Linked DNA regions of Homo sapiens: all the other regions are linked to region 3. The links come from fine-mapping of genetic effects on gene expression. A gene starts in region 3. Each other region holds a variant in brackets. All regions are shown on one strand. Distances are from middle to middle.

Region 1 (10,412 bases), 80 kb after region 3:
GCATCATCCTTTACTGTGCTCCACCCATGCTGGCGTCCTTTCTGTTTATTGAGTGCAGCAAGCTTTAACCTGTTCGGGTCTTTCATTTGCAGTTTACCCTGAATATTCCCTTTCTCTTACCTCACCTTTGATTGGCGTTTTCCCCCTTGCAGACCTGCACTCTGGCATCCTCTCCTGAGCAAGCCTTCTTTGATTGCTGCCTCCCAAACCTGTTTCTCCCCATTTCTCTAGCTCATTGGCCTGTGTTACTTGCTTCATAGTGCTCACTACTATCTGAAATCATTTCATTACTTGATTTATGTTTGTACTGTCTATTTCTGTCTTTAGAATTAAAACTCCTTGAGGGCAAGGACTTTGCTTCTCTGGTTCATGGTGGGATCCTCATCACCCAGCACAAGCCCAACACTTAGGAGAGGCTCAGCTAGTTTGAACCAATGGAAAATGCCATTCCTGAGGTGCACCACATCGTTTCTTTTGTGTTGGTGTGCATGCTGTCCTTCAGTTTGTCTCCTCTTCCCACACCCTGTCATGTGCTCCTAAAACTCCCCCTTTACTTGGCTACTTTATCTGGCTTGGCAAAGCTTTCCCATATCCCCTGACCCATGTCAGGGAACGTTTCTCCTCATTGCTGTCATGGCACCCTGTGTGTGGCTCTGACCAGACTTTGCTATCCGCTTTGATTTCTGTCTTTCAGGGGCTAAGTCCTGCCTACATCCTCAGTCAGCATGCTGCCTAACACATAACAGATCCTAAGCAAATATTGGGTGGATGAAAATCACTACCATTCAAGGCTTCATTGTATTTATCAGTAAAACTGAAATAATATCTAATGGGGTCGAGAAGATTTACTGAAAATATATATTTGAAAGGGCTTTGCAGTTTTAAGTACTGTACCTATGTGCATTGCTGTTACATTCAGGAGATTTCTGAGTTTTAGACAGTCCCAAGCTTCAGCTTAAAATCTGTAGACTGCAGCCCGTTTCTGAAACGTTTGTACTACGTGTTGACTAGGAGGAACAATGACAGACTCTGTAGTCACCGGAAATACTTAAGGAATCATGAGGTACTATGTATTTCCTTAAATTATACTGTTTTTTAAAGCTGAAGTATCTAATAGTTAATGGGTTGTCCAAATTTGTCAGAACATTTGACTGTAATTTAATGTCTCACCATTTTTCAAAAAGATATATTAATACCAAATATTAAAATGTGTCAAGACTAAATCTGAGTTAGTGTCTTAACACACATTTTCCAAAATCTGTCCGTGATCAGGGTACCCAAATGAGATGAAAAGATTAGGGATTTGTAGTCTACATCTGGTGTTTACAGATAATGTTTTATTGGGCAAGTCATCTCATTCTTCTTGTCCTGGATTCCCATGAATTTTCATCTGGATTCCTACGCAGATTTTAGCTGAAGAGGGCAAAGTTGACTTCCCACTGTGGGCTGGACATTACCTTCCCTTGCAGACTCATTTGATCTCAACAAGTGTAGAAAAAATACTACAACACTCTGTTTCTGTGACATCTGCTTAAACCCAAACAATTCTTACCTTCTCTCTCTTACATACACATAACACCTGGTAAACTGTGGGTGATGATTTTCTGTTTGCAAAACACTCGAGTCCAGTACCTAAAAGTTGCAGATAAGAAAGATAATTATAAAATAAGCTCTATGGCATGAGAACATACGTTAAGCAAACAGTTGTCATGAACAGCACTGAAATGTAGAAAAAGTTAGAAATGTGTCAGCTTGTCCCAAAACAGTTTGAAATAGTATAAATGCATCAAAAAGTAACAAACAGAATCGGGGCAGAGGGAAAATGAGGGCTGTAAACATTGATTCACTAATGAATCTAGTTGTCCAGTCCAGTTGCTAGAGGAAGGCAGCCAAGTTACCTCTGAGCTTCAGAGGGGGAAAAGCAGAGGAGAAAACATTTACCTAAAAGTTTTATGGTGCCCATAAGATAAAAAAAAAAAAAAATCATAGACTTAAGAAAAGCACAGATTTTTTTTGTGTGTTTGAATAAGCGTTTTGTAAAGTATGTGAGTATCCAGAAGAGAAGTCCAACATTTTCATAACTGGTAATAATAATCTGCACAGCTCCCCCCACAGTATGCTTCACTGTGGGTTGATGGCATAAGGCTGACATCCAAATTCAGAGGAAACTGTTCTGAGAGGGCCACAAACATGATTGCGTAAAGCTCTCATGGCCTGAAAAGGGAAAATTTAGAGGGATGATAGACTGCTTTAAACCAATCTTTTGTAAAAGCTATTTCTCCGCAGTGCAATTTTGATAATTCAGACATACAATTCACATCTTTTTTTTTTTCCCTCTCTGTGAGGAACTAGAATTTGGGAATTTTATGTTGCCCATTAAGACCAGGTTCAATTATTTGACAATCATCCAGTCAGAAGAACTTTTGCACTCCTCTTACAAAAAGAACGTAAGGCAGTAGTTGATAGGGGAAGGTCTAAAACTCCTTGATATTAAATGCAAAACATTTATTAATGTTAATAATAGTAATATAATAATATTAAATGCAAAAAATGTGCATTGTGCATTTTTCTGGGGAGAAGGTTCATAATTTTCATTAGAATCTTGAAGGTGTCTGTGAATCAAAAAGAGATTAAAAACCATAGCTTTAGGGACTAGAGTTGTCCCAGAATGGTATCCCATTTCCTGGGGAGAGACATAAAATTGGAGGAGTCCAACCTCTCCCTTCTGGGGCTGAATTTTAAAGTGCAGTTGAATAGTCATTCAAAATTTAAGCTTTTCAATAATAAAAAGACAATTCAGTTCAAAAATGGACAAAAGATTGGAATAGACATTTCTCCAAAGATGTACAGATGGCTATTAAGCAAATGAAAAGATGTTCAACATCATTAGTCATCAGAGAAATGCAAATCAAAATCAAAATAAGATACCATTACACATCCACTATAATAAAAAAAAAATGGACAATCACAAGTGTTGAAGATGATGTGGAGAAATTGGAACACTCATATGTTGCTGATGGGAATGTAAAATAGTGCAGTCACTCTGGAAGACAGTTTGGCAGTTCCTCAAAAAGAGTTACCATATTACCCAGCAATACCAATCCTAAATATATGCTCAAGAAAAATGAAAATATATCCACACAAAAATTTGTACACAAATGATCTTAGCAACATTATTCACAATAACACCAAAGTGGAAGCAACCTAAATATCCATCATTGATGAATGAATAAACAAAATGTATATCCATGTAATGGAATGTTATTTGGGAGCAAAAAGATTTGAATGAAGTATTATACTACTGATGCCACAGCATGGATGAACCTTGAAAACAGGAAGAAAGCAAAAAAAAAAAAAATCACATATTGTATGACTCCATTTACATGAATTGCCCAGAATTGACAAATCTGTAGAGATAGAAAATAGATTGGTAGTTGCTAGGGATTGGCGGCGGAAGGTTGGGGTGGGAAATGGGGTGGGGATAGGAGGATTGGGAGGTGAAGACTAAAGGGTATGGGGTTTCTTTTTGAGATGAAAATGTTCTAAAATTGATTGTGATGGTTGCACAACTCTGAATATAACAACTAAAAACAACTGAATTGTGTACTTTAAATGGGTGAATTATATAGTATGTAAATTATATCTTAATCACTGTTACCAAAAAAAAAAAAAAAAGCCTCTGATGCATGGCAGCTCCTTAAAAATATCAAGTTTATATTAAGGGAATACCACAACACATATAGCACAAGCTATTCTAAAGTTTTCTATTTTCAACTCTCAGTTCACAGGAGTAACGGTACCTTTCTTGGAGAGAGTGGATGTTCAAGCTCTGTTAATCATTGCTTGTGGTGTGGGGTGGCTCTGCACTGTGCAATATTGTGGGGCAGAGGGCCAGGGGCCTGCACACCGCAGGGGTTCCTGCTCTTCCGGGTGGGAGTTCAGTCTTGGTGCTGCTTCCTGTTAGGCGAGGTTGCAGGCAGCAAAGGCCACTCATCAGCCAGGCAGTGTCTTGGCTAAGTGTATTCTAAGGAGAAGCTGCAGGAATGCTTGGCGCTAACCTCAGTGCTTAGAGGAGGACTGTTTACAAACACTTTAGAGGGTTACAGACCACTGATGTGGAATATGAGCATATTGAAGTTCTGCCCTAAGACTGCTTAGCAAGTCCCTCAGTATCTCTACAAGCATGACTGGGCAAAGTAAAGAAAGAAAAGCCAAGTACATTACCTAAACCTGCTTTATTTCTTTGGCTATGAGAAACAGATGAGCTAAGATACTCTTTGAAACTAGTCTTCCTAGTCCTTTTCTGGAGTGGCTATCCCTTTGACAGGCATCCACTGTGGATGGGCTAATCATCAGTTCCCAGAGCTGTCCTGATTTCTGTGGCACCAGCTTTGGGAGGTAATGGGGGCCTCTCAGTGGGCCAGCTCTTGGATTTGTCTTGCCATTGATGTATAGCATAAACCCAAACAGCCCACCAGTCCCTGACTTTTCTGCGACCTAGGACATGTGTTTCAGATCCCCAACTTAAATAAAATACAACAAACAAGACCGGAAGTGTTATCTCCCAGTTAGTTTCTTCAGCCACAGGCAAGCATAGCCCTTGGTCCCAACAGGAGCATGCACTGCAACCCTGCAGGTTCCTGTGTAACCCAACAGGGCAGTGGCTGGGGCAGGAGCTCAGTGCTTCCCCAAGGATCCCCTTTTCTGGAAGACAGGCCCCTCAGCCCAGCATGGAACCCCAGCAGTAGCCTGTTCATATTAATAAATTCTGGACCATGGGCAAAGGACAGGAAAGGTTCCAGATTGGTGATATGTTCAACCTGCTACCTCCTGCATGAGCTATGGCTTGTAGACTAAGAAGGCATCACCTGATCTGTTTATTTTGCTCCAAAAAGGTTTAACATTAACCCATTGTTTAACAACACCAAGCAATTCCAGACGCTTCCCCAGGCAAAGTCATTCCTTAAATCCACATTTCTCAAGCTGTTTTCCAGAGATCCAAAATATTTGAAGTATTAAGTGTTTTATTAGTCCATTTTCATGCTGCTGATAAAGACATACCTGAGACTGGGTGATTTACAAGAGAAAGAGGTGTAATAGACTTACAGTTCCACGTGGCTGAAACCTCACAATCATGGCGGAAGGCAAGGAGGAGCAAGTCACATCTTACATGGAGGGCAGCAGGCATAAAGAGATCCTGTGCAGAGAAACTCCCCTTTTTAAACCATCAGATCTTGCGAGACTTATTCACCATCACGAGAACAGCGTGAGAAAGACCTGCCCCCATGATTCAACCACCTTCCACCAGATTCCTCCCACAACACGTGGGAATTCAGGTGAAATTTGGGTGGGGCCCCAGCCAAACCACATCATTCCACCCCTGGACTCTCACATATCTTGTGTCCTCACATTTCAAAACCAATCATGCCTTCCCAACAATCTCCAAAAGTCTTAACTTATTTCAGCATTAACTCAAAAGTCCATAGTCCAAAGTCTCATCTGAGACAAGGCAAATCTGAGCCGATGAGCCTGTAAAATCGAAAGTGAGTTAATTACTTCTCAGATACAATAGGGATACAGGCGTTGGGTAAATATACCCATTCCAAATGGGAGAAATTGGCCAAAACAAGGGGGCTGCAGGCCCCATGCAAGTCCGAAATCCAG[C/T]GGGGCAGTCAAATCTTAAAGCTCCAAAATGATCTCTTTTGACCCCATGTCTCACATCCAGGTCACGCTGATGCAAAAGGTGGCTTCCCATGGTCTTGCACAGCTCCACTCCTGTGGCTTTGCATGGTACAGCCTCTCTCCCAGCTGCTTTCATGGGCTGGCATTGAGAGACTGTGGCTTTTCCAGGTGCACGGTGCAAGCTGTCGGTGGATCTACCGTTCTGGGGTCTGGAGGACAATGGCCCTCTTCTCACAGTTCCACCAGGCACTACCCTAGTGGGGACTCTGTGTGGGGGCTCTGACCCCACATTTCCCTTTCGCACTGCCCTAGCAGAGGTTCTGCATGAAGACCCAACCTCTGCAGCAAACTTCTGCCTGGATATGCAAGCGTTTCTATACACCCTCTGAAATCTAGGTGGAGGTTCCCAAACCTCAATTCTTGTCTTCTACACACTTGCAGGACTAACACCACATGGAATCTGCTAAGGTTTGGGACTTGCACCCTCTGAAGCTATGGCCTGAGCTCTACGTTGGCCACTTTCAGCCACAGCTGGAGTGGCTGGGACACAGGGCACCAAGTTCCTAGGCTGCACACAGCATGGGGACCCTGGGCCTGGCCCATGAAACCATTTTTTCTTCCTAGGCCTCCAGGCCTGTGATGGGAGAGGCTGCTGTGAAGACCTCTGAAATGCCCTGGAGATATTTTCCCCATTGTCTTGGGGATTAACATTCGGCTCCTCATTACTTATGCAAATTTCTGCAGCTGGCTTGAATTTCTCCTCAGAAAGTGGGATTTGCTGTTCTATTGCATTGTCAGGCTGCAGATTTTCCAAACTTTTATGCTCTGTTTCTCATTTAAAACAATGCTTTTAACAGCACCCAAGTCACCTGTTGAATGCTTTGCTGCTTAGAAATTTCTTCTGCCAGATACCCTAAATCATCTCCCTCAAGTTCAAAATTCCACAAATCTCTGGAGTAGGGGCAAAATGCCACCAGTCTCTGCTAAAACATAGCAAGAGCCACCTTTGCTCCAGTTCCCAACAAGTTCCTCATCTCCATCTGAAACCAGATCAGCCTGGATTTCATTGTCCATATAGTTATCAGCATTTTGGTCAAAGCCATTCAACAAGTCTCTAGGAAGTTCCAAACTTTCCCACATTTTCCTGTCTTCTTCTGAGCCCTCCAAGCTGTTCCAACCTCTGCCTGCTACCCAGTTCCAAAGTCGCTTCCACATTTTCAGGTATCTTTTCAGCAACACCCCACTCTACTGGTACCAATTTACTGTATTAGTCTGTTTTCATGCTGCTGATAAAGACATGCCTGAGACTGGGCGATTTACAGAAGAGGTGTAATGGACTTACAGTTCCACTTGGCTGGGAAAGCCTCACAATCATGGCAGAAGGCAAGAAGGAGCAAGTCACATCTTACATGGAGGGCAGCAGGCAAAAAGAGAGCCTGTGCAGAGAAACTCCCCTTGTTAAAAACATCAGATCTCATGAGACTTATTCATCACAGACTTATTCTGTGCTGTCATGAGAACAGCACAAGAAAGACCTGCCCCCATGATTCAACCACCTCCCACTGGGTCCCTCCCACAACGTGGGAATTTAAGATGAGATTTGGGCAGAGACACAACCAAATCACATCAAGTGTTTTTTAAGAATATGCCAAAACAGAATGGAAAACACAGCAAGTCAAATTCCCCAGAGCCAGGTCAGCCTCTGAATGGGATTAGGAGTGCCCTCTCTCCCTCCCACTGGCAAGCATCTTGCCTCAGCCTCCTCTGTTGCTTCCCAAATGGAATGGGAGCTGGTGGCTTAGGTACTTAGAGGTTCTTTACCTTCTGTGTGTCAGGGATGCCTCTGGCAGAGTTGAGGAGCCTATGGACCCCTCAGAATAATGACTAAGTGCATAAAGTAAGATACAAAGGCCGGGTGTGGTGGCTCACGCCTGTAATCCCAGCGCTTTGGGAGACCGAGGCAGGTGGATCATGAGGTCAGGAGATCGAGACCATCCTGACTAACATGGTGAAACCCCGTCTTTACTAAAAATACAAAAAATTAGCTGGGCATGGTGGCGGGCACCTGTAGTCCCAGCTACTTGGGAGGCTGAGGCAGGAGAATGGCGTGGACCCAGGAGGCGGAGCTTGCAGTGAGCTGAGATCGTGCCACTGCACTCCAGCCTGGGCAACAGAGCGAGACTCTGTCTCAACAACAACAACAACAACAGCAACAACAACAAAAGATACAAAGCATTAAATGGAAAATAAAATATCATCATTCAGTTATGAAAACCTAAGAAAAAACAAATTTGTGATGTAGTATTATATGCACTTCTTTGTTAACTCATTAAATAACAAGACTGAGTGGCAGGTCTATCACCTACCATGCTTTTGAAGTGGGGACATATGAAAGTAATGTTTTAATATGTCCATCACAATTGTAATGAGCTATGAAAATATCTGTGATTTCTATTGGAATAAAGCTAAAGGTACTGCTAGCACTGTGGCCTATACTCATAATGGAAGAAAAGTACATTTCAGTCAGAGGTTATTGAAAATAAGGATGTCAGTTTTTCCCACCCAAGTTCATGGAACCCTAAATTGTATCCTTGGATCCTTGGGAAGTGTCTGTGGACTCCAGGTTAAGAATTTAGAGGCCTACTTATGTTTTATCTCATGCCTGGTCATGTTGGTTCCCTGCGAACATTCACTTGTTTACAGGAGGCAGTATTTGTGCTTAATGTCAGTCTTGACTCTAAGAACTTAGTCTTTTTTTAAAAAATAATTTCAACTTTTATTTTAAATTCAGGGGGTGCACGTGCAGGTTTGTTACATGGGTGTACTGCATGATGCTGAGGTTTGGGATATGAATGATCCCAATACCCAGGTAGTGAGCATAGTATCCAATAGACAGTTTTTCAACCCTTGCTCCCCTCCCTTCTTCCTCTTTCTATCCCCAGTGTCTATTGTTGCCATCTTTATGTCCGTTACTACCCAATGTCTAGCTCTCACTTGTAAGAGAGAACATACAGTATTTGGTTTTCTGTTCCTGCCTTATCTTGCTTAGGATAATGGCCTCTGGCTGCATCCATGTTGCTGCAAAGGACATGATTTCATTCTTTTCTATGGCTATGTAGTATTCCATGGTGTATATGTACCACATTTTCTTTATCTAATCCGCTATTGATGGGCACCTGGGTTGATTCTATGTCTTTGTTATTGTGAATGGTGTAATGCTGAACGTATGAGTTTATGTGTCTTTTTGGTGGAATGATTTATTTTCTTTTATATATATACCTAGTAATGGAATTGCTGGGTCAAATGGTAGTTCTGTTTTAAGTTCATTGAGAAATCTCCAAACTGTTTTCCACAGTGGCTGTACTAATTTATATTCTCACCAACAGTGTATAAAGCATTCCCTTTTCTCTGCGACCACACCAGCATCTGTTGTTTTTTTGACTTTTTGATAATAGCCATTCTGACTGATAGGAGATGGTTATCTCAGTATGGTTTTCTTTTGCATTTCTCTGATAATTAGTGATGTTGAGCATTTTTTCATATATTTGTTGACTGCTTGTATGTCTTCTTTTGAGAAGTGTCTGTTCATCTCTTTTGCTCACTGTTTAATGGGGTTGTTTGCTTTTTGCTTGTTGAGTTGTTTAAGTTCCTTATAGATTCTGGATATTAAATCTTTGTCAGATTGTTTAGTTTGAGGATATGTTCTCCCATTTTGTTTACTCTGTAGAAAGTTTCTTTTGCTGTGCAGAAGTTCTTTAGTTTAATTAGGTCCCACTTGTCAATTTTTGTTTTTGTTGCCGTTGCTTTTGGGGACTTAGTCATAAATTTTTTGCCTAGGCTGATGTCCAGAATGGTGTTTCCTAGGCTTTCTTCTAGGTTTCTTATAATCTGAAATTTTACATTTAACTCTTTACTCCATCTTGAGTTAATTTTTGTATACAATGAAAGGTAAGGGTCCAGTTTCAATCTTCTGCATATGGTTAGCCAGCTATCCCAGCACCGTTTGTTGAATAGGAAGTCCTTTCCCCATGGTTTATTTTTGTTGACTTTGTTGAAGATCAGATGGCTGTAGGCATGTGGCTTTATTTCTGAGTTTTCTATTCTATTCCATTGGTCTATGTGTCTGTTTTTGCACCTGTACCATGCTGTTTTGGTTACTGTAGCCTTGTAGTATAGTTTGAAGTTGGATAGTGTGATGCCTCTGGCTTTGTTCTTTTTGCTTAGGGTTGCTTTGGGTATTCTGGCTAAGTAAGAGCTTAGCCTTTAAATGGGCTGAGATAATAAATCAACTTACCCAAGCAAGGTAATATTAATTTTTTTTATTCATGACATACTTTTTGGAATTTTGGAGAACTATTGTTCTGCATCTGACAGATCAGAGCATTCTGCCTGTGTTAGAGTTAGGCCCTGAGGTTTTGGAAGCCCTCAGCATTTAGGACAGCATTTAGGGCAAGCCTGGGATGGTGAGTGCTCTTCTCCTGGGTCTTCTTGGAAGAAGACCAGGTTTGAACAAGCACACTACAGTCTCTGTAGGTCACAATCCCAATGCTTGACATGCAGCCTCGTGGGCTGGCTGCATATGATCAGGGAGAAGCTGGACCACTCAGCCATTTCCTCTGCAGAGTTGCAGGGTATGCTACTGTCCTCTGTGGACAAGGGGCCTATAGCACTATTGGAGGAGCTGGTGCTCTGTGTGCTCCAAGATAATTGCTCACTGCCGAAGTGCAGCT
Region 2 (10,412 bases), 130 kb after region 3:
AGAGGCACCATCTCCGACCCTAACATGGGCACTGGAGACTCCTCCTCAGTGGATGCTTCCAGAAATTGTAGTCAAGGCAGGGTCTGAGGTCCCTTCTAAGGGAAGGCCACAGCCTGCAACTGTGGTCTGCACTCAGTGCCCTAGGCTGTCGAGGGGAAAACTGACTGCCTCATGCTCAAAGACAATCAGAAGTTCAAAGGGGGGAAAGGCATAGCCTGTGGACCACGCAGTGGGGTCGTGGGAAGGCAGGGAGACAGAGTGCTTGAATTCACTGCCTCCATCTACCCCAACCTGTTTCTGTGCTGTGCAGCTGTGCTGGCGGGGACCTTTTGTGGCTCTCCAGGGCCGACTGGAGTGCTGCCTCTCTGGATGTCAGTAATGGGGATCAAGAGAAGAACAGAGAGGCCCTTCCTGAGATGGGGGTGGCTTTGCTCTGCCTAAGAGGAGCAGTGTTGAGAATAACAGAGGTAAAGAGGGTATCTGTGAGTACGCGAGCCCTGCGTGTAGGATGTGTGTGCACATGGCTTGTATTTGTCCCATGTGTGGGAGTGTCAAGATTTAAGGTGCAAAAATCGAGAGAGCACACTCATGTTTCTGAATAAAAAGGAATCTGAGCTGCTGATAACATCATGATCCATGAAGAATATTGTATGTAGCCTCAGGTTAAGGCCAGGATTGGCCAGAGCCCCAGAGGACAGAAATGCTCCAGTCCTCTGCACCCCGGCTGCCCTGCCCCACTGTGCCTCACAGTGACCCTGCACCGCCAATAGCACCCCTTCCCCAAAAACCACAGCCCTTTCCTCAGAAATGTGATACGGTCTCACTCAGACCTGAGAGGAGAAGGAGCCTGGTGTCTGGGCAAAGCAGTAAGAGATCATTCTGGCATTTGTGCCTGGTAATGTGGTCAATGGCCAAAGTCTGGAAGGGAACCTGCCAACAACTAAAGAAGGCTATTAGCCCACCTTTCCTCATGTGTGGTCTGGGGGCAAATGCTGCAGGCTTTCAGTGCTTTGGTGGAGGGAGTTATAGGGAGTCAGAGTGGGGAGTTTGTCAGTGGAGGGTGAGGTGACAAAAGGGTCTGGGCCCTCACAATTGGCCTGGAGCCAGCCCACTTCAGAGCCGAGGAGGAGTGGGCATGGGGCCTCCTGGCTCTCCTTCCCCTCCCGCTTGGTCTTCTCCACCTGCTGCTTCATGCTGCCTGGCACATCCTCCACTTCCACCTGCCAGACGCCCAGCAGAACTGAGACAAGTACTTACAGGAAGGTGAATTTGGAGGTGATGGTGTCCACCAGGCCGCTGCCCCAGGTGCTGTCCACCAGGTGCCATCTTCCCTCCAGGTACACAGCATTCCAGGCATGGTCAAACTCCCCCGAGAAGCTCTGCCCTGTCTGGTAGCCGAAACCCTTGGAGTAGCCAGGCACGGTCATACACTGCACTCCGGCGAGCCTGGGGGCAGGACAGGGGGTCTGAGAGGGGGATCCCGCTGTGGCTTGCCTCCAAGTCTGTCCATGGTCTCAGGTTTCAGGCATGTTTGCTGCCCATCAGTCCTCCCTGTCTATCCTTTTCCTTGCTTCTTGTACTCACATATAAACAGCCTTGATGGCTTTTATCTCGGGGCACTGGGGACAGGGAGATACAGTGCTGGCTGGTCCTGTTGGTACAGACTGGCTGCAGTCTCCGCTGTCTGCTCCTCCCCTGAGACCAACACCATTCAGATCACTTCTGAAATGTTCATCCCTAGAGCCTGCTTGACACGCTCCTCAAGCAGCTCTTCAGGAGGAAAAAATGGGGGCAAGCGTGAGGCTGGCTTCAAGAAAATAGGAGCAGGGGAAATGACAATGTTCCTGCAACAAAACCTACATGTAAGGGGCGAGCACAGCTGCTGGGAGAACCAGGGCGCTTCTGGACATGCGACTGAAGAGATGGGTCTCGTGACATGGGTGAGGTGTTGTGGGGTTGCTGGTTGTGAGGGTACAGAAGCCAAGCCCTACCCCCCTGCTATTCCTCCCAAGGATGCCTGCAGGGGAACCCCGGGGCAGGCGGTGGATGTCTCCAGCCCTGGCCCAGGGAGGACTGGCCAGCTGCCAGTTTGCTCAGGTCTGACTGGTGGGTCTGTCCTTTGTGAACATGGTGCAAGAGCCATCATGGTGCATTAAGGTCATTTGCTGACTGCCTGCCCTGGCCACAATTCTGGAGTCTCCTGTGGCTGTCCTGAGGGGAATGGAAATGCCGACCAGTCAACCTGAGCTTTGGGGTCCTTTTGACATTGTGCTCCTTCACTGCTCATAGTAGAGCTGGCACTGCTTTCTGGGAACCTGGATGGGAAGATGGGCATGGGTCACCTCTGGGGAAGATATAAAATGAGACATTTGGAGCTAAAACCCTGAGGCCCAGGCCTGGGCTGTGGGCACCAGTCCAAGGCCAAAGCAAGACCCCTGGGTGTCCTTTCATGGCCAGCTGGTCTTGCTCCTCAGCAGCCCTGCTCCCCTGAGGACAGCCAAGGGGATGGACTGTGCAGACAATTTCACTGCTAGTCTGACCTAGGGACATCCCATGCTAGCCCTCCTAGGGCCTTTGTGTAAATTAGAAAAGGTTCCCCTTCCTCAAGACATTTTCCTTGCACTCATGGAAAATTGGTGTAATAGATACACAACCTGTGAAACCGAGGATGTGCTTGATGCCCCTTTGATGGGGCTCCTTTGAGTACCACACAAGCTGCTCAGTCCCCAACTCAGTGGTGACCCTGTGCTGTACTCAGCTGAGCTGAGTCTGCAGTCCAGGGTGTTGGTGGGGTCTGTTTCAGTGAGATGGGCCCATGGGGCTGGGCCCTTCCACAGACCAGGGCTGCAGCCTCAGTTGCTCTAAACAAGAGGGCCACGGAGCCTCCCAGGGGAATGGGGTGAAATGGCCATGCATCTACTATAGGAATTGGGGGAATCTTCCTTGTAAAAATGAACATGTAATTTAAAATTAGCAAAATATTGGATTAAATATTACTAATACATATCACTTGCTGAGAGAGTCATTGGGATCAAATGTGATGTCCTGAGGGTTAACAGATTCTACTTTCCCAGCCATCAGTGTTTCTTCACATGCATGCAATGATGAGGTGTTACCATGTCTGCCTTAACCTCTGCTCACCTGTGGAAAGTCCGGGCCACTAGTGCTGAGGTTCCTTAGGGGCTTGGAAGTTTTCTAGCCCCCGCCCTTTTGCCTGTTGCTTCACAAAAGGAGGTTCAGGCCTCCTAAGCCCTCTAA[G/A]GAATCCCATAAGAACATACCAGCTTGGCTCTGTGGGATGGCTTCTGGGAGCACTTGAGGGCATGGGGACAGACTGCAAGAGAAACTAGATCCCAGTGTTGTGATTTTCTGCTGGCAAAGGCCATAAGCCACTCCAGGGCAGAAGGAGGCAGTAGCTGAGGAGACCGTGGAAGGAAGGGGAGAAGGGGCAGCCTGCATACCTGGAGTGCTCTCTCCTCATTTCTCTGCAGTGCAGAGAGCAGAAGGTGGTGGGGAGTGCTGAGGGGATGCAAGGCTGAGGGGGTTGTTCTCAGGATGAGGAAGTCTGGATGTGTTTATAGTCTGAGAGGAAACAGCTAGCAGAGAAGGACCAGAGGAAAGCAAGGCCAGAGGAGTGGGTAGAGGTGTAGGGGTGGGATAGACATTCTATAGGAGGTGGGGCCCCATCTACTCAGAGACTGGGTGAGGAGAAGAAATGTTGTGAAAAATATTTAGTGAGCTAAGCAGTGCCCCTGACACGATGTGAACTGACAACAGCATGTCAATCTCTCCAGTCAGCACAATGTCACGCCGATGCTGTGTGTGTGTGTGTGTGTGTGTGTGTGTGTGTGTGTGTGTGTGTTGCCTGCATGCACAGAGAAGGAGGGGCAGGGAGTGAGAGGGGGAGAGATGGCACAAAAGGCACCTGATCTTTTGGCAATGGGATTATAGGTGATTTTAATGTTTTTCTTGAAACTTCTCTGTATTTTCTAAATTTTTAATAATGATTATGTGTTACTTTGAGAATTGGAAAAAAAGCCATAAATACTACTTAAAATTATATTCTTCAGGAAATTACTTTCCATTGCTGCCTAGAATGTCTGTGCATATCACTTTCTAGGATGATGTGGAGGGATAAGGGGAGTCCTGGGAACAATGGGGCTTGGAGAATGGCTCGTTTTGCATTAAGGTGAACTGATTTAGCGGCGCTGTGGACCTCTGGACATGCTGCCCACTGATGCTTGTCCTCTGCTCAGAGCCACCTGGAGTCAAGGAAGGAAGGAGAGGAATTTAGCATTTGTGCAGCCTCCAGGCGGTGGGGTAAATCAGAATGGGTATGGAATGTCCTCCTGGGAGAAGCCATGTCCTAGGCCGTGTGCCCAGGGGGACATCCTGCCCTCAAGGGAGTGAAGTGGAGGCAAGATTGGAAAAACCAAGTCAGGGAGCAGCAGCGAGAGCCTGCCCCAGCCCTGGAAAGGAGAGCAGGAGGAAGAAGCAAGGGGCAGGGATGTCCACCTGTACTGCTCTGAGTGGGGGTGATGGCCCCTGAGCCAGGAAATAAGGTCACCTCCCAGGTCTGGTGGTCACCTCTAGAGTGACCTTGCCAGGCTTATCATGGGCAGAGAGAAATGTTGGCATTAAATGATCTCCAGGGGTTGATTCTTCTCTGACAGGCTGAGGAGAAGCTGGGAAGGCTGTGGGGAATGCCTGGGGCAGAAAAAAGATGAAAATATAAACTCAGTTATAAGCTTATGCCATGCTTGACTCTGATATGAGGATATTTTATTACCTGGCAGCAATGTGCCAGATGAATTGGACAAAGAAGGTCATAATGTAAAGCATTATTGTTAATATGCCATAATTCTCATGCAAAATCCTCTGTATGTATAAGACGATGATTGTGGAACCCACAGGAGTTTTGTCTCCAGCCACTCTTGCTAGCCAGGATGAACCACAACTCTTTCATGTCATCAAAAGATCACTGGCCGCACACACTGTGTATAAAGCACTGTAGCAGGGAATGCTATAACATGACATGGCACCATACAACGCAACACAATGTAACAACATAAAAAAATATCATATCCCCAAAATAAGGCTCAGTGGCTGCCCTAGATGTGCTGATAGTTGGAAGGAGGGTGGATATGGGAACTGTCACTGGAACTGTCTCCAGAACTTTGCTTATAAAATCCCAGTCTATAAGCAAAGACCTGGAGAGCCCAAAGGTGGAGGAATTAACTTTGCAGGCAGGAGCTGAGAGAGCACGGAAGGAGGGGCCGAGGACTAGAAACATTTCCACCTCCTGAAGAGCTCCGACCAGCCATCCCAGAGCCTAAAATATCACCCAAGGAGATTTATTTAATGACCTCAGACTGCAGAATCTTCGCTTCTACTTTACAGAATTGACAACCTCAATTTTGCCTCCATAGCTCATGGCTGATATATATCCCAAGCCACAATGAAAACATGGATGTAAGATGCCCTGAACAAGCTGCCAAGGAGCACCCTGGAGGATTTGGAGAAAGCTGCAGCCCCCACTCTCCAGCAATATCAGGGCTCAGGGACCCAATCAGAGAAGCCCCAAGGGCTGCAAAGGACCACATGGCCACCAAATGTGGCCTGATGGGAAGAGACTGAACAGAGGGGCAGCCAAGCAGAAGGCAATGTCATTACCTGGGTTACCCTTGATGAACCCTGAAGCTGCTGAGTCTTCTATGAATGCATTATCCTTATTATTTAAAAAGATCTGTGTGTTCCAGTTTGGTGCACTGTATCCTAGTGTATTAATTTGGTATTATTTTATACTGAGATGGTCCAGGCCCTGCCATAGGAACTGTATGATGCTCCTACAGTCAGTACCAAGGCCAGGCCCCAACAGCTGTGTGGCTGAAATATCTGGGTGGACAGGTGCACCCTACACCAATGGGCTCTGACCGCAGTAGACTTTCCCAAATCTGATCACCTCTCCTAGGATGTGTGAGCCAAGTGAGGGAAAAAGGGAGGGAGTGTGCCTGTAGGAGAGACTATGAAGTATGCTTTTCTTTTGGTATTTTGTTGAAAATACTGTGGTTTCTATACTGCAGCAGGACAAACAAACCATGACTTATCTTTCACAATTTATGTACTTGATTTCTTATAATCTGACAGTGTGTTTATATTTCTCCCATGTGCTCTCTTTTCCCTTTTCTTACACACTACCCTTACAGCTACGTCAATAACTAGTAATCTTGATAATAATTCTCTCTCCAGGGCCCCATGCAGAACCTCATGAGACGTGACTTCAGAGGCCTCCTCTCTGAAGGTGAGGGAGGCGTCAGCTGTTCAGAGAGAGAGGCTGCCTTGCCTGGGGACACACAGCTAGCCAGTGGCCGGAGCAGCAGTGGATGCAGTTGTCCTGATGCATAGTTCAAGAAGCTTTTTTTTTTTTTTTTTTTTTCACGTGTGAAAACATCTATTGGGAAAATGGAAAAATCATTTGACCTCATATTCCTCATAGCTGACATGGTAAGTTAATTTTTTTTCTTTTTTCTTTTTATTTTATTTTATTTTTGTTATTATTATACTTTAAGTTTTAGGATACATGTGCACAATGTTGCACCAGCTCTTTTGTAAATCAAGATTTTGTTTTGATCTATACACTTGTAGGTGGTATAGAGAGTGAAATGGAAAGGTGGTTTGCACCAGTGACATAACTCATCTTTGTGAGTGCCATCCTTTGGTGTAGCTATAAGGGTGGGGGAGCTAAGATGTCCCTTTCAGAGGCCTTATACACCAGCATCAGATTTGGTGATAATTTAAGGTTATCCAATGAATCTGCATCTCCCAGAAGGCTTAGATGGCCACTGCCTATCTTTTGGGGCCTTTGGAACCAAGTGATGTTTTAGGATTATAGGGGACATACTGCTAACCAGAAGCAGCCATCTGACTGCACACACTCCTGCCCCTGCTCTCAGTGACAGCTGGAGGATGAGTGGAAAGCCAGCTGACATCTGATTGGTGACAACCAACTCCCTCAGTGTCAGGGCTCAAACTCGTAATAAGTGCCTGGCTTTATCCAACGTCTCTGAAACCTGCTAGCTGGTGATGCTAAAGCCATGCTAACGGGAAGAGAATTTACTGGAGGCCGACTCAAGAGCAGCAGTCTGGGGAATTAAGCTTGGCTCCTGCGAGGAAATTAGGCAGAATCAACTAAGGATGCAGGCAACTGAGGCAAAAAGAGAGACATTAATGTTGGATGATAGAAAGTCAGAAGGAAACTGGACCAGCAGTTACAAGCTATAGCATTAACCAAAAAACCCCACATCAGTGACTTGGGACAGACAGAAGGAACTGAATGATGTTGTGAAAATATCTGAATTCCTCCCCAAATTACTTTATTAAATCAGTCTTTAATGAGACAATTTCAGGGAGGTGGAATGGACTGGCAAAAAGTAATGATGTCCACCCTGACAACCAAGAAGGGATAAATCAGCAAGTGCGGATTATATGTCCTCAGTTATTAAGGAATTAGCTAATTAATTTACCAAACTTTTGGCAGTTATTTTAAAGGTAAAGAGAGTTAGTAGAGGGATGCATAGATAGGTTACTGATCTTTAAAGAAACAGTTAAAGGAATTCAGGGGACCGTGAGCTATTGCTACACATCTCAGGCAGTGTGAGGAATTTTGCACATGGTAATCACCATGTTGGAACTAATTTTAAATGATGCAAAATGTTAGGGAGAGTTTTAATGATAAGCTGCAGGCCAGAATAGGGCCATTGTTAAGTATCTGGACCAGGGCAAAAAGCTGACAGTTTCACTCAAGGCAAGTGTCAATTTTCTGAATCTATGTAGGCTGGCAGAGTCTGTAGGAAAACTCCACAGAGCAAAAGGACTCCAATCAATACTCAAGAAAGACAAGATAGGTCAAAAAACACCCACCCCAAAATCGGGTTGGTAACCCCCAAACTGCAGTCTCATTGAGTCCTATAGCCCTGCCAGGTAGGCAATCTAGTCTCCAATATATAGATGAGAGCACTGAGGCTGCAAGAGGTTAAGGGCCTTACCACAAAGAACAAAACTAATAGGTGGTAAATTAAAAACTGGGAGCCAGGTCTTTCTGGCTTTAACTTTGGCACTCCTTCTAAAGGATGCTAGGATGCTTATACTGGATCAAGGAGGCGATACCACTCTAAGTGGTAGACCCAGGTCTTTCTAGCTTCAAATCTGGCATTCCTTCTACAGTATGCTAGAAAGCTTATACTGGATAAAGAGGAATATATCCTGGAACTTGGAAAAAATGCTAAGCATTTTTCAAATTTGTAAAATCAGAGGAAAATAATCATGTTCTGAAAGATGCTAGGCACAAATGGAGCTAAGAGACTTGTGGCTATTTCATCAGTTAAAAGAGAATTCCACATTCCATTCCACATAAGTCTGCTAGGAATATCCTGTCATTTCTATATATGTCTATTGAGGGCCTACTGGGTGTAGGATTCTGAGATGGGTATTCGCAGGGGAGGTAGAAGGAGAGAGGAGATAAAGGCAAATATAGACGTATACAATCGATAGGATGTATGACAACAACCGAGCACAGGTAATTCCTGTATGCACAGAACACAGTCTGGAAAGTAATATGACCAAATGTTACCAGTGTTAGCTGTAAGTGGTGAGATTCAGAGTAATAATTTCTTTTTTGCTTTAGTGCATTTTATAAACCATCTACAATGAATGGTATTTTTTAAATTTAAAAATGTTATTAATTGAAAGCATAAGGCAACACATGAGTTTGGTGTGCAACTGGGCTGGGGGTACAAAGGAAGGGGAAGGTTGTGGGCTGTCCTGGAGCGGGGCCTGGAAGGAGCTCTGGGGAGAGGGAGCAGGTGTGCATGCAGAGGTGGTCAGGAAGGTGGTGTCACACAGTGCAGGGCTGGAAACTTGGCTGAGGTCAGATTTTGGAGGACTTTGCTAGATAGTGTGATCCTTTAGTGATGTTAGGAACCCAGGACCAGGGAAGCCTGGACAGAGAGGCCAGTGAGGATCCAGGTTCCTGGAGAGGCCTGCAGGCAGCAGGAGGTATGCTTGGGTCTGGGGTAGGGGGTGGGAAGCAGCCTGGGTGGCATATTCTGTACCCTGACCCACCGTGGCTGCGTCTGGGGCTGTGGTCTCAGGGATTGGCCTTGAAAGTGAGAAAAGGGAAGTACAGGAAGCAGAGCAGGAGGCTTAGAGTAACTCAGCAGCCGGGTAGGTGCCTGTGCTTGGCAGTGGTGATGGGGGCAGGAGGCAGCACAACAGGGGGTTTGGGCCAGGAATAGGTTGCATGCACCCAGTGCTCGGCAGCTGCCGCCTCTGCAACACTGAGGCCATCACAACTGCCTGCCTGTGGACTAAGTGTTACACTTGGTTTGATGAATTGCCACCTGCAGTTCTGGTGGGCTGACATCTGGGTGCCTAAGAAGACTCACTCCCAGAAGCCTAGAAAGACAGTGGGCCGCTGTTCATCCACCCCCTGGGGAGGGGTTCTTTGATGGCCCCAGGGCTAGCTGACTGTTTTCTGGAGGAACCCAGCAGACCTCAGAGGGTAGGCTCAGGAAGCTGTGGGGGTCAGTGGCCATCCCCTCCCCCCACCCCACATCTTGAGCCTGTTTTGAGTCACTGGGAACTGGCAATGGCCTGTTCTCCTGCTCAGGCCAGAGCTGTCACCCACCCCAGCAACCTGGCCATATGCCCACTCCCAGAGTGCTGAAAATGGAGCCCAGCGACTCCAAGAGTAGCCGCTTCGTAGTGATTCAGCTGTCCAACTGACAAATCTTTTCAGGTGGGAGATCTTTTGTTTCCCCCAAAAGAGGCTCCCTGTGTCAGCCCTGAGGACAGCCTTTCACAGTCCCCTTGGCATCTGCAGTCACTGTCCTCCCGCTCCCAGGCCTGCCATTCTTTTAACCTTCAGCTGCATAGAGATGGGAGAAGGCGGAAAAAGGGCTTTTTATAACCAAATTATCTCTGTGCATTCATCTACCATTATGTTAATGCATCGCGAAGCCCGGCAGATGGTACAAAGTCAATTATGCTGGTGTTAAAAAGGGAGAAATTGACCTTTTCAGGACTCACTTGGGTTCCAGAGCAGAGTTTGTAAACTCAGGTTTCAGGCCTGGCATGTGGGCAAAGGCACATGGCACTGTGGAAGAGGGAGAGGGATGGGTCCGGTGGTCAGCATGGGGACTCCTGTCTCTCGTACCTGCACATTCTCTCGAAGAGGCCAGCATAGCCATCACAGTTGGTCTTCTGGGTCCGCAGGATGTCAGTGGGTTTGAAGGCTTGGCGGTCCTTCTCCTGAGCAGCTGCAATGTCATACTCTATAGGGCAGGTGAGGGGATCATGAAGAGCTTGAGCCTGGGAGGCGAGAAGACTCCACCCCAACCCCCAGCTGTGCTCTGGCC
Region 3 (10,412 bases):
AGCATTCTTAGGCACAGGAGTCACACGAACATACTGTAAAGGAAACGGCTTCCTTCCCTAAAATAGTACCCAGGCTGAGATCTGAATAAAGCACTTCTAGGTGAACACCAGTGGTAGAACCTCATACTGCTAAAGTTTCTCCAGTTTCTGCTTCCCTTTGGGGTAGCTCCTTCCTCGGAGGTTCCTTCCTCTAATTCTTAACGCTACACTCCCTTCAATTTCTGGCCCAAATGGTCACGATGCTTATTTAGCTCCTTGACCATGGCTGATTCCCCATTTTTCTCTGAAACTGCTATAATCTAATCCAAAAGGCTGGCTAGCTTGTAGGATACTTCTGGATTTCCCTGTTTCCAAGGTTGGGCCCTGACTCATCATAGGCATCATCCTATGGGTGCTCCCTGCTACCAAGTGACAATCCAAAAAGCCCGGAAGCCACTGGCATCAAAGGTACTCTCAGTTTCTGAGACTATGGAGACTCACACAATAAGCAATTTTGGGGTGGTGGAGCGGGGTGGAACCCACCATCTGGAGGTGCTTTTTTCAGAGCTCAGCCTGGGTGATATTTTAAGGAAGGAAGCCATTTCCTTTACAAGCTCAACTTCAGACATCGTCTTGCCTTGAGGATTTGTGTCAGGTCTGTAGTTGGTCCCTTCGCATAGTCCAGTTTAGTGTTATCTCAGTATGTTCATGAGCTCCTGTGCCTAAGAACGCTGAGGTTTGGGCCAAGGCAGGTGGAAGTTTTTGTAAAAATGGCTCACAGGGCCGGGCGCGGTGGCTCGCGCCTGTAATCCAGCACTTTGGGAGACCGAGGTGGGCGGATCACGAGGTCAGGAGATCAACACCATCCTGGCTAACAGGGTGAAACCTCGTCTCTACTAAAAATACAAAAAATTAGCCGAGCATGGTGGCAGGCGCCTGTAGTCCCAGCTACTCGGGAGGCTGAGGCAGGAGAATGGCGTGAACCTGGGAGGCGGAGCTTGCAGTGAGCCGAGATAGCGCCACGCGCCACTGCACTCCAGCCTGGGCGACAGAGCAAGATTCCGTCTCGGAAAAAAAAAAACAAAAAAAACCAAAAAGGCTCACAGCTGTCCCCCATAGGATAACTGCAAGATATCCCTAACACCTTGGCAAAAATTATACACAGATTGGTGTGGGAAAGGGTTTACACCCCCATGACAAGGATCTCGGCAAAAGTTAAGCAAAATGCGCCCTGCTACTTCTGTCACCGGTGAGCCAGGTGAGGGCTTAATTAATCCAGTACTCAATAATTAACCGAGTACTACCCAGTGGATAACTCAAAGCAAGACGAAGTTTTGGTTATACTTTTGAAGTCCCTGTCTTACAAGTGCTCCCCACTTTCCTGCTGCTACTCCTTTGTCCTTGCTGCTCTGTCTCCTGGGATACCCTTCTCACTTTCCTCAGCTGATCCAAACCTGACTTTCGGAGGCCCACGTAGATTTTCCACCTTTGTAAAGTTTTCTCAAATCACTCGAGCTTCAGTAGGCCTTCTATCCTTGAACTCTTGCTTCTTGTCCTAACTTAATCTACTAAACAAGCTAGGTCAGCTTTGTGGTCAATTGCTCAGGTATTATTGCCTCCAACTGTTACGTGTACATTTTGTACCCATGATTCCTTAGTAGATCTTTCCACATTTGGTCTCAATCTTTTTCACCTGTCCCTTCTCCAAACACCTCCAACCCTGTCACATTTTCCAGCCTTGACAGTTAAAACCCCCTTTTCCACATCACTAATGCCACTCTTCCTTTCAAGATAAACGCAGGCGTCAGCTCTTGAAGGTCAACATCCCATTTCCGGGATTAGGCGCGAAGGTGCCTTCCCTCATAAGGGGCTGGAAGGATGGGAAGCATCAAGATAATCAATGCCCAGGGCACACTGATTATCTTGTGTATTAAAGCCACCGTCCCAAGTACTCGTCACCCAGTACGACCACTGTTTCCTGAACAAACTTTTCTTACTCACGTGACAGTCCCGATGCCTGCAATGCTCTTTGTTTCTTCCTTTTTATTCCAGTGAACCCACAGTCAGTCTAAAAATCTTAGGTCCCAGGTCGCTTCCTATAGGAGGCCGCCTCCAAACCCCAGGCTGAGTGCGGTCCCGGTACCCACCCCTCCAGGGGTCTCACAGTTCCCTAAGCACAGAGCATGGCACCAACTGGGGAGTCTGTCAAACAGCCCAGATGAATGTCTTTCCAAACACGCGGTGCCTGCGTTTCCAGGGACAGGGACACGTCTTATCAATTTCTATATATTACAGCTTTGTAAACATAATATTTATAAAATCAAAGCGGGAAAGCCTTGTTCCTTGCTAGAAATGAGCCTCGCAGGCCACCACCATCCGCACCGTACGACAGGCCGTCCCTCAGCTGCGGCTTCCTGCCTCAGGCAGGATGTACCAAACGTGGAAGCGGAGACGGGGAGGTCTGGGGGTGCCACGCAAGTCCCTTTCCTCCCGACACGAGTGCAGTAAAGAAAAACGGTTATGAGCGTAAAGTGACAGCCTCGGCCGATGGGAATAGGGGGAAGTCCGACACTGAGCAACGAACGCATTCCCGCGCCTCCAAAACCTAGGCCGGGGGCGCTGGAAACCCTTACCGGCACCCGGCCACCGCGGCAGACGCTTGCTCCTGCCACGCCCCCCCCCCCTCCCCCGCATCACGTGTCTGCACTCGCTTTCCTCGGATTCCCGGATGTGGGTGAGTTCATTTGCTCGCGTGCAGGGGAAGTCTGGAGAAGGCATTGTTTCAATTATTAAAAGTGTGGGGGCAGTGGGCGGAACAAACGCGCCGACTACAGAGGCTGGACGTAAGCTTAGCGGTGGCGCGCGTGCGCAGCGCCGGCCCGAGGTAACGGCGGGAAGGCTCAGGGGCGTGCTTGCGGCAACCCTGTAACCGCCGGTGCGCAAGTTGGAGGGGCAAGGGGCTGCCGTGTCCTGGTCTGGAGGCGGCCCAGGCTGCCTTGGTGATTCTGGCTTCGCGGCCTCATGGCTTGCGGCCGGTTTGCGCAACGGCCTGCGAACCACCAGGCGCGTCCCCGCCGGCTTGGGTCCGCCCCGAAGCCCAGTCCCTCGGCCTGGCCCGCTATGCCCTGCACACTGGCGGAGTCTGGCGTGGCGCAGCCCGGCGTGGGGTTCGGCCCCGCCAGGTGGTCAGCCCTTCCTCGGAGTCCAGGTGGCTGGGGGCGCTTCGGAGAGTGGCCAGGTGGGCGAGCGAGCTGCGCCCAGTACTCACCTTCCCCGGCGGACCCACCTTCCTTTTCAGCGGAGAGACCCCAGTGCGGCCTCCCTGCCAGGGCTGCTGTCTAGCTAGCGCTGTTGGGACTACTTCATTCACGGCACAAGGGGACCCGCTCATTTAGTGTGGCATGTTAAGGTTGGCAGCTTTTAAAATAGTGAGTTGGTTTAAACGGTTATGTTAGTACAAGAGGTACGGAAATGTGGCATAAATCGTGGACTGAAATTGGAGAACCCTGAACTAACGGCTCCATGCACACAAATGAGGGATAGAAAGAAATAAGGACGGTTTCTTAGGAACACTTTAATCATGGAGATACTTGAAGACAGTACATTTAGGCTTATAATGTGGTTTTTCTTACGTCCCTTACGACATCAGGAGAGTAAAGATGAGTATGATGTCAGAGACAGGTCGTCTTTTACAGTTTCAGCACCGTACGCTGATATGCACAGAGTAGTTTTCCCTGAGCCTTATGTCTGGTTAAACTTATTAAAAGAATTTATTATTTTAATAAAGCAGTATTGTAGGGTAGATGCCCTGTATTTATACAGTTCCTCAAGTGCTTGCATTTATTTTTTAGATACGAGGAAATCATAAGGATCGTTGATTAGATTTCTGTTAGCTGTAGCTTAATGATAAAGTGTATATATTTTCTTATTTGGCATGCAGTACCATTTTTAGATTGATTTTTATTTTGAGTTTGCTTTTTGACTGTGGCATTATCAGTGATCAGGGTAGTAAAAAGCTCTGAAACTAAATTAGAGTAGAGATTTATAAACAGGCACACTGCCTTTTAAAATGTATGTAGATGCAAATCTAAAAGTTGTTTGTAAAAATTGTGTATGTTGATTGTACTGATGCCATTTCCTCTCGTTAAAATGGTGGAAGACCTTTGCTTAGTCCTTTCTGTTCTAATTTATGTTGTGCTGGCAGATGGTGACAGCATCAGTAGTCCACTCTGTCATTGCTTCCTGCTTTCAAAAAATGTCAACTTGACTTGAAATTCAGCTAAAGCCAACATTGACAGAAGGTTTCAGGAACTGAATCTCCGATCTTTATGTTATTTTAGTCCGCCTCCCCGCCCCCATCAGGAGCTAGGTTTTTCAGTTTTACAGAGCCACAGTACTGTCATTACACATACACAAATTAATAAAAATTCTCTAATGTCAATATCCAGTCAGATAACGATTTCTTCAACTGTCTCTTAAATGTCTTTTTACAATTAGCTTGTTTGAACCAAAATCCCACAGGGATCTGCCTATTGTGTTTGGGTGATGCACATTTGACATCTTTTAATCTATATTTGTTCCCTCATAGTTATAGCTATGGGATTAGCCCCTATTTTTCCTTACAGTTCTAAATTTAGCAGATTGCATCGCACAGTATCCTTTAACATGTATCTCTGTTGCCTTTGTGTCCTCTAAACCAGGGGCCCCCAAACCCGGGGCCGCAGAGCAGTACCAGTCCGTGGCCTGTTAGGAACCAGGCTACAGAGCAGGAGGTGAGTGACAGGCTAGTGAGCATTACCTACCACCTGAGCTCTGCCTCCTGTCAGATCAGCCGTGAGGTTAGATTCTCCTAGGGGCACGAACCCTATTGTAAACTGCGCATGCAAGGAATCTAGGTTGCACACTTATAAGAATCTGACTAATGCCTGATGATCTGAGGTGGAATAGTTTCATCCTGAAACCATGCCCCTAACCCTGTCCATGTGTATTATTCATATTACTGAAGAAGTGGTTGGCCGGGCGCGGTGACTCACGCCTGTAATCCCAGCACTTTGGGAGGCCGAGGTGGGCATGAGGTCAGGAGTTTGAGACCAGTGTGGCCAACATAGTGAAACCCCGTCTCTACTGAAAATGCAATAAAATTAGCCGAGTGTGGTGGTGTGCGCCTGTAATCCCAGCTACTCGGGAGGCTGAGGCAGGAGAATCACGTGAATCCGGGAGGCGGAGGTTGCAGTGAGCCGAGATCACACCATTGCTCTCCAGACCAGGCAAGAGTGCAAGACTCGGTCTCAAAAAACAAAAAAAAGTGGTTTGGCCATTCCTCCCCCAAAACATTTCATATGAATTTTAACAAAAAGATATTTACAAAATGTGTTATTTCCGCCCTGTCGGTGTTGAGAAATTGTCTTCCATGAAACAGGTCCCTGGTGCCAAAAAGGTTGGGGACCACTGCTCTAAACCAGTAGTTAGATGTAGAATTGCACTGTCCGGTATTGTAGCCACCAGCCAGCAGTGGCTAGTTAATTAAAGTGAAATAAAATTAAAAATTCAGTTCCTAGGCTGGGCGCGGTGGCTCACGCCTGTAATCCCAGCACTTTGGGAGGCTGAGGTGGGTGGATCACGAGGTCAGGAGTTCGAGACCAGCCTGACCAACATGGTGAAACCCCGTCTCTACTAAAAATGAAAAATTAGCCGGGCGTGGTGGCATGCGCCTGTAATCTCAGCTACTAAGGAAGCTGAGGCAGGAGAAGGAGAATCGCTTGAACCCGGGAGGTGGAGGTTGCAGTGAGCCGAGATCACGCCACTGCACTCCAGCCTGGGTGACGGAGCGAGACTGTCTCAAAAAAAAAAAAAAAAAAAAAATTCAGTTCCTAACTTGCATTAGCCACATTTCAAGTGCTCGGTAGCTACAGATTGCCTGGTGGCTGCTTTTTGAACAGTGCAGTTATAAAATATTTTCATAATTGCAGAAAGTTGTATTGAACAGCACTGCTCTAGAAGCCTGATGAGATTTCACCCTTATATTTGTTTTTGTTTTGTTTTTTGGTGGGATAGTTGGGGGGGTTGGACAGATAATTTCATAGGTAATGCAGTATACTTCCTATTTCATTAATTATCAGGGAAGCAGTGTCTGAGTTGTTTTCTTTTTTTATGATGTTAACATTAAACATTATATTGGGTTTAGGTGTAGTTAGCTCCATCCACCCATAGTGAAATTCCCCAAGACTCTTTCACTTAGTGGTGAAGTCCTTTTGTGGGGTTATATTGCCTGTATCCGTTATTGCATTAGAGGTTGCAACGTGGTGATTATCTAATTCTATTATTTCTTCAATATTTATCAACTGAGAGTCTTTTATGAAGAACTTTCCCTTTCCAGCTGTTTGACTACCCTGAAATACAATTTGTACAGGAAAGGCAAGAAAAATGCTTAATTCTTTGCCTCTATTTTCAGACCACAGTAATGAGTTGGTGGCCTAGCAGCCTCCAAAGGTAACCATGAGGGTTTTTGCCTTTTTGTAAACCTATAATCATGAACTTATAGACTTTATATTTAAACTGTTTCAACATATGGCAGTTGTGTTTTTAATACTCAAATTGTTTCATCTTTGGCCAGTGGGAGCTCCTTAAAGTTGGCTCCTATTCCATTTGATATGACCAATAGCTTTGGTAATTTCCTTGCTTTCTGGTAAATAATTTTCCTGGCTCATTTATAGATTTCTGGTCTTCAAGGAGCCGTGGTTCTTTTGAGTCTGAGATAGTATTTGGAGACCACAGTCTTACCTAGGTGGGAGAGGTGTTCTTGCTACTAGGTTAGTCGTTAGTTCTAGGATTTATGGTGGCCAGAGTTAGGAAATATTATATATTAAAAAAAACACAAATATGCAAAATTCGCATTGTTTCCAACATTTAACATTTAAATTTCCAAAATTTAAACTTAATTTTACAGTTTTTTCACACGTTGGATTTATGTTTGTATCTTTTTTGCTGAGTCTTGGTGCCTAGTGCCATTAATAGAATTAGTTTTTTTTCCTCATCCTATGTTATATATAATGGTTTCAAGTTAACAGGCTATTTTATTATCAATATGATTCCTGAATAGTGCTTAGGATTTCTTTGCAACTGTCTTTTATCCTTATTTTATATGTCTCTAGGAAAGTGTATAGTAAAATTATTGTATTTAAAGGCATATGAAGTAATTTATTGTATAGTTAGCCTATCAAGTTGATATCTAGTTGGTAGTTGATTTATTTTATTTTGTTTCCAATTTTTCAGTACTGCTTTTTTCCCCATTTTGATTTGTTTTATTATATGCAAAACCTTAGCATAATTCCCATAAAACAAGTACCCATAAAACAATTTAGCTTTCATCTCTGTTTCTTCCACTCTGCTTATTTTCCTTCCTTACTGATACTGTTTTTACTAGTTTTGAGTCTATCCTTCCATTAAAAAAACACATACCTAAAAGCAAATCTACATGGACAAACATACCTTTCTTTCTTAGGTAAAATGTGCTATTATGTATACTGTTTTCCATCTTGGGTTTTTCACCTAGTGATATATGTCCTGTAGATCCCCTCCTTAGGAGTATGTAGAGATTGTTATTCCTTTTTACAGTTTCGTAGTACTCCATTGGTGGATGAATATTTAATTCGTCCCCTCTTGATAGACACTTGTGTTATTTTCTGCTATTACAAATAGTCATGCAGTGAATATCCCTGTGGATATGTTGTTTTGCATTTTTGCCAATGAGCCTGTGGGATAGATTCTTAAAAGTAGCGTTGTTGGATAAAAGGGTAAATGCATATATCAGTTGTTAGGTATTACCAAAGTCTCCTCTATAGCAGTTGTGTTCATTTTGCATTCCTACCTATTATGTATATGAGTGCCTGTTGTCCCACAGCCTTGTCATCAGAGTGTATTATCAAACATTTAATTTTTGGTTAATCTGGTACAGAAGAAAGGGTAACTTACTGTAGTTTTAATTTGTATTTCTCTTATGAGCAAGGTTGAACATCTTTTCATATTTTTACTGTCATTTGTATTTTTCTGTGCATTGCTTGTTTATACCTCTCGCCCATGTTTCTATAGATTTTTTGCCTAATCTTTTATAAGCTCCTTATATATTTGGGTAATTAACCGTTTGTGGTAAAACTTTCAGGTACTGTTGTCATTTGTCAGTTAACTTTGCTTATGGCACTTTTTCATATAAAAGTTTGTTTTTATGTACTCCTATTTCTCAGACTTTCTCATTGTTCTTCCTGGATTTTGAACTATAGTTTGGACAATTTTTTAAAAACTTTAATATTTTGAAAAGTTTCTCTAATACCTTATTTACTGGTATCAGTTTAATTAGGAGCCTTTCTGGAAAATGCTTAGTAATACTGATTGTTCATCGGAACAGCCATAGTTTACTGGCCATGGTATATCTGACACAATCATAGAGCTTTGTAATGAAAACGACACCAAGGCAGGTACAGGGACAGAGAGCATTGTTATCCTCCTTTAGACTTGAAGGTTAGGCATATCCCTTCTCTTAGTATGTACACATTTATTCATAATTCTGTCTGGAGTTTTTATTTTCTTCCTGTGTCCCATTTTGTGAATAATTTGGTCTTGGGCATATACTATGATATTTTTCCTGATCTGTAAAATGATAAAGTTAAATTAGAGGCCTGAAGTGCTTTCTAGCTCATAAAGTCTATGTTAATGAATTTCAAAGATTTGCCTATTATAAGACATTCTATTTGTATTCTTTTTTTTTTTTTTTTTTTTTGAGACGGAGTTTTGCTCTGTCGCCCAGGCTGGAGTGCAGTGGCGCGATCTTGACTCACTGCAAGCTCCGCCTCCCGGGTTCACGCCATTCTCCTGCCTCAGCCTCCCGTGTAGCTGGGACTACAGGCGCGCGCCACCATGCCCGGCTAATTTTTGTATTTTTAGTAGAGACGGGGTTTCACCGTGTTAGCCAGGATGGTCTAATTTTATGTAATTATATGGCACATGCAAAGAAGAAATCAAAGTGACATAGTGCATAGAGTTGAATGATGGTCAGGTTGGTTAGGAAAAGAATCAGTGATATAACTATGAGCAACTCAGATGACAAACATCCACAGAAAATCAGCCCTTACTATTTGCCTGATCCTGAGAATTGATGGTGTTTGGCACCAGGCAGATGGTGAAGGTATTACAGAAACACTTTGCACATTAGTAAGTTTACTTTATTTCTCACATAGGATATTACTGGTCCACTTCCCTCCTTTTTTTTTTTTTTTTTAAACAGGAATCTCTATCTTAGACCATTTTGATTTCTAAAATAGCAATATTTCTTATGTGACTATTTCATTATTGTGCTGCTGCCACCTGGTGGCCACAGTAGTGATGTCATACTTCAGTTTAATTTCTTTTTTTATTGCAAAGACACTATTAAGCCAAAAGATAGGCTGATATATTTTAAGATATAGAATACTGTAAAATATATAAAGGTTGCACATCGATTGTGACTCAATTGATTGCCACAATGTCTAGGTTGAATCCAGGACTATAATTTTTAGTTTATCATAGTCAAGTTATTTAACTCTCTAAGCCTGTTTTCTCAAAGTAATAGTATCTGTCTTTTATGAGTATAGTGAAGATTGATTTAGACAATGTGTACAAGGCAGCTGTTGAACATTCAGTAACTTAACTTCTAAGTATATTATTAAATAGTCATAGAAAATATATTAATGTATATTACTAAATATATTAATGTTTAAGAATAACATGACCTAAATAAGTATAATTTTACTAATGATAATTTTGAATAACTGTGATAGCACTGTCAATAAGAATAGCACTTTCCTACATGTTAGTTAAGTATCCGTGTATGGTTGTCAGGAGCATGCTACTTACAGTGGACATTTAATTGGCTGTTAGAACCCATGAAAAAGCTGGAAGAAACCTTAGAGAATATTGTTCATGCCCCTCATTTTGCAGATGTTAAAACAAGTCCGAGAATATAAAGCTAGTTAGTTGCAGAGTAGGACTGTATCCTGGGTCTCCATCTAGTGTGGTGTGGACCGTGTACTGCCTCCCAGTTCTCCTAGAGTGGACCAAAACATGGAATCTTGGTTGCATTGTAGTTGGACTGTATTGTGATTTGAAAGTGGAGTAAAACATGGGAACCTTTTTCTTTAGGTTTTTATTTTTGCAATTTTGGTGTAATATGTAGGATAAACCAACTAGAAAAAAAATCCTCCCTGTCACGTTTGTGCACAAATAATTTAATACTCAGTTTGTTAGTATCTTTAAAAATAGATGCAAATAAGGTGCAGTGGTTCTATTTTCCAGTCTTCTCATTCTCCTCTGTGTCTCTGGAACACCCTGGGCATGTCTCTCACTATATTTATCACACTGGGAAAGCCTTTTTGGCTCATTTTTTTCTGTCCCATACTAGACTA

The links. PIP is the estimated chance that this variant, and not a neighbour inherited with it, causes the effect. A credible set is the group of variants that fine-mapping cannot tell apart.
Region 1: its variant is the best candidate, but not a certain one, in a credible set for the expression of ANAPC13 in whole blood (TOPMed, PIP 0.72).
Region 2: its variant is the best candidate, but not a certain one, in a credible set for the expression of ANAPC13 in prefrontal cortex (CommonMind, PIP 0.88).

Annotation. Positions count from the first base shown.
Region 1 is chr3:134,563,809-134,574,220 of GRCh38, forward strand. It overlaps CEP63 (centrosomal protein 63), which reads left to right. Exons shown (of 15, transcript NM_001353108.3): 15 at 1-1,223. Among named protein-coding and RNA genes, the nearest start is that of KY, 82 kb to the right of the region's middle. The variant C/T (reference allele first, on the strand shown) is at 5,665.
Region 2 is chr3:134,608,938-134,619,349 of GRCh38, forward strand. KY (kyphoscoliosis peptidase) reads right to left here. Exons shown (of 11, transcript NM_178554.6): 8 at 10,211-10,328; 9 at 1,258-1,446. It also overlaps a transcript of CEP63 not described here. Among named protein-coding and RNA genes, the nearest start is that of KY, 37 kb to the right of the region's middle. The variant G/A (reference allele first, on the strand shown) is at 3,259.
Region 3 is chr3:134,483,340-134,493,751 of GRCh38, forward strand. It overlaps ANAPC13 (anaphase promoting complex subunit 13), which reads right to left and starts at 2,646. Exons shown (of 3, transcript NM_015391.4): 1 at 2,613-2,646. It overlaps CEP63 (centrosomal protein 63), which reads left to right and starts at 2,718. Exons shown (of 15, transcript NM_001353108.3): 1 at 2,718-2,863. RefSeq lists enhancers at 2,301-2,420, 2,451-2,550, 2,631-2,740, 2,832-3,650.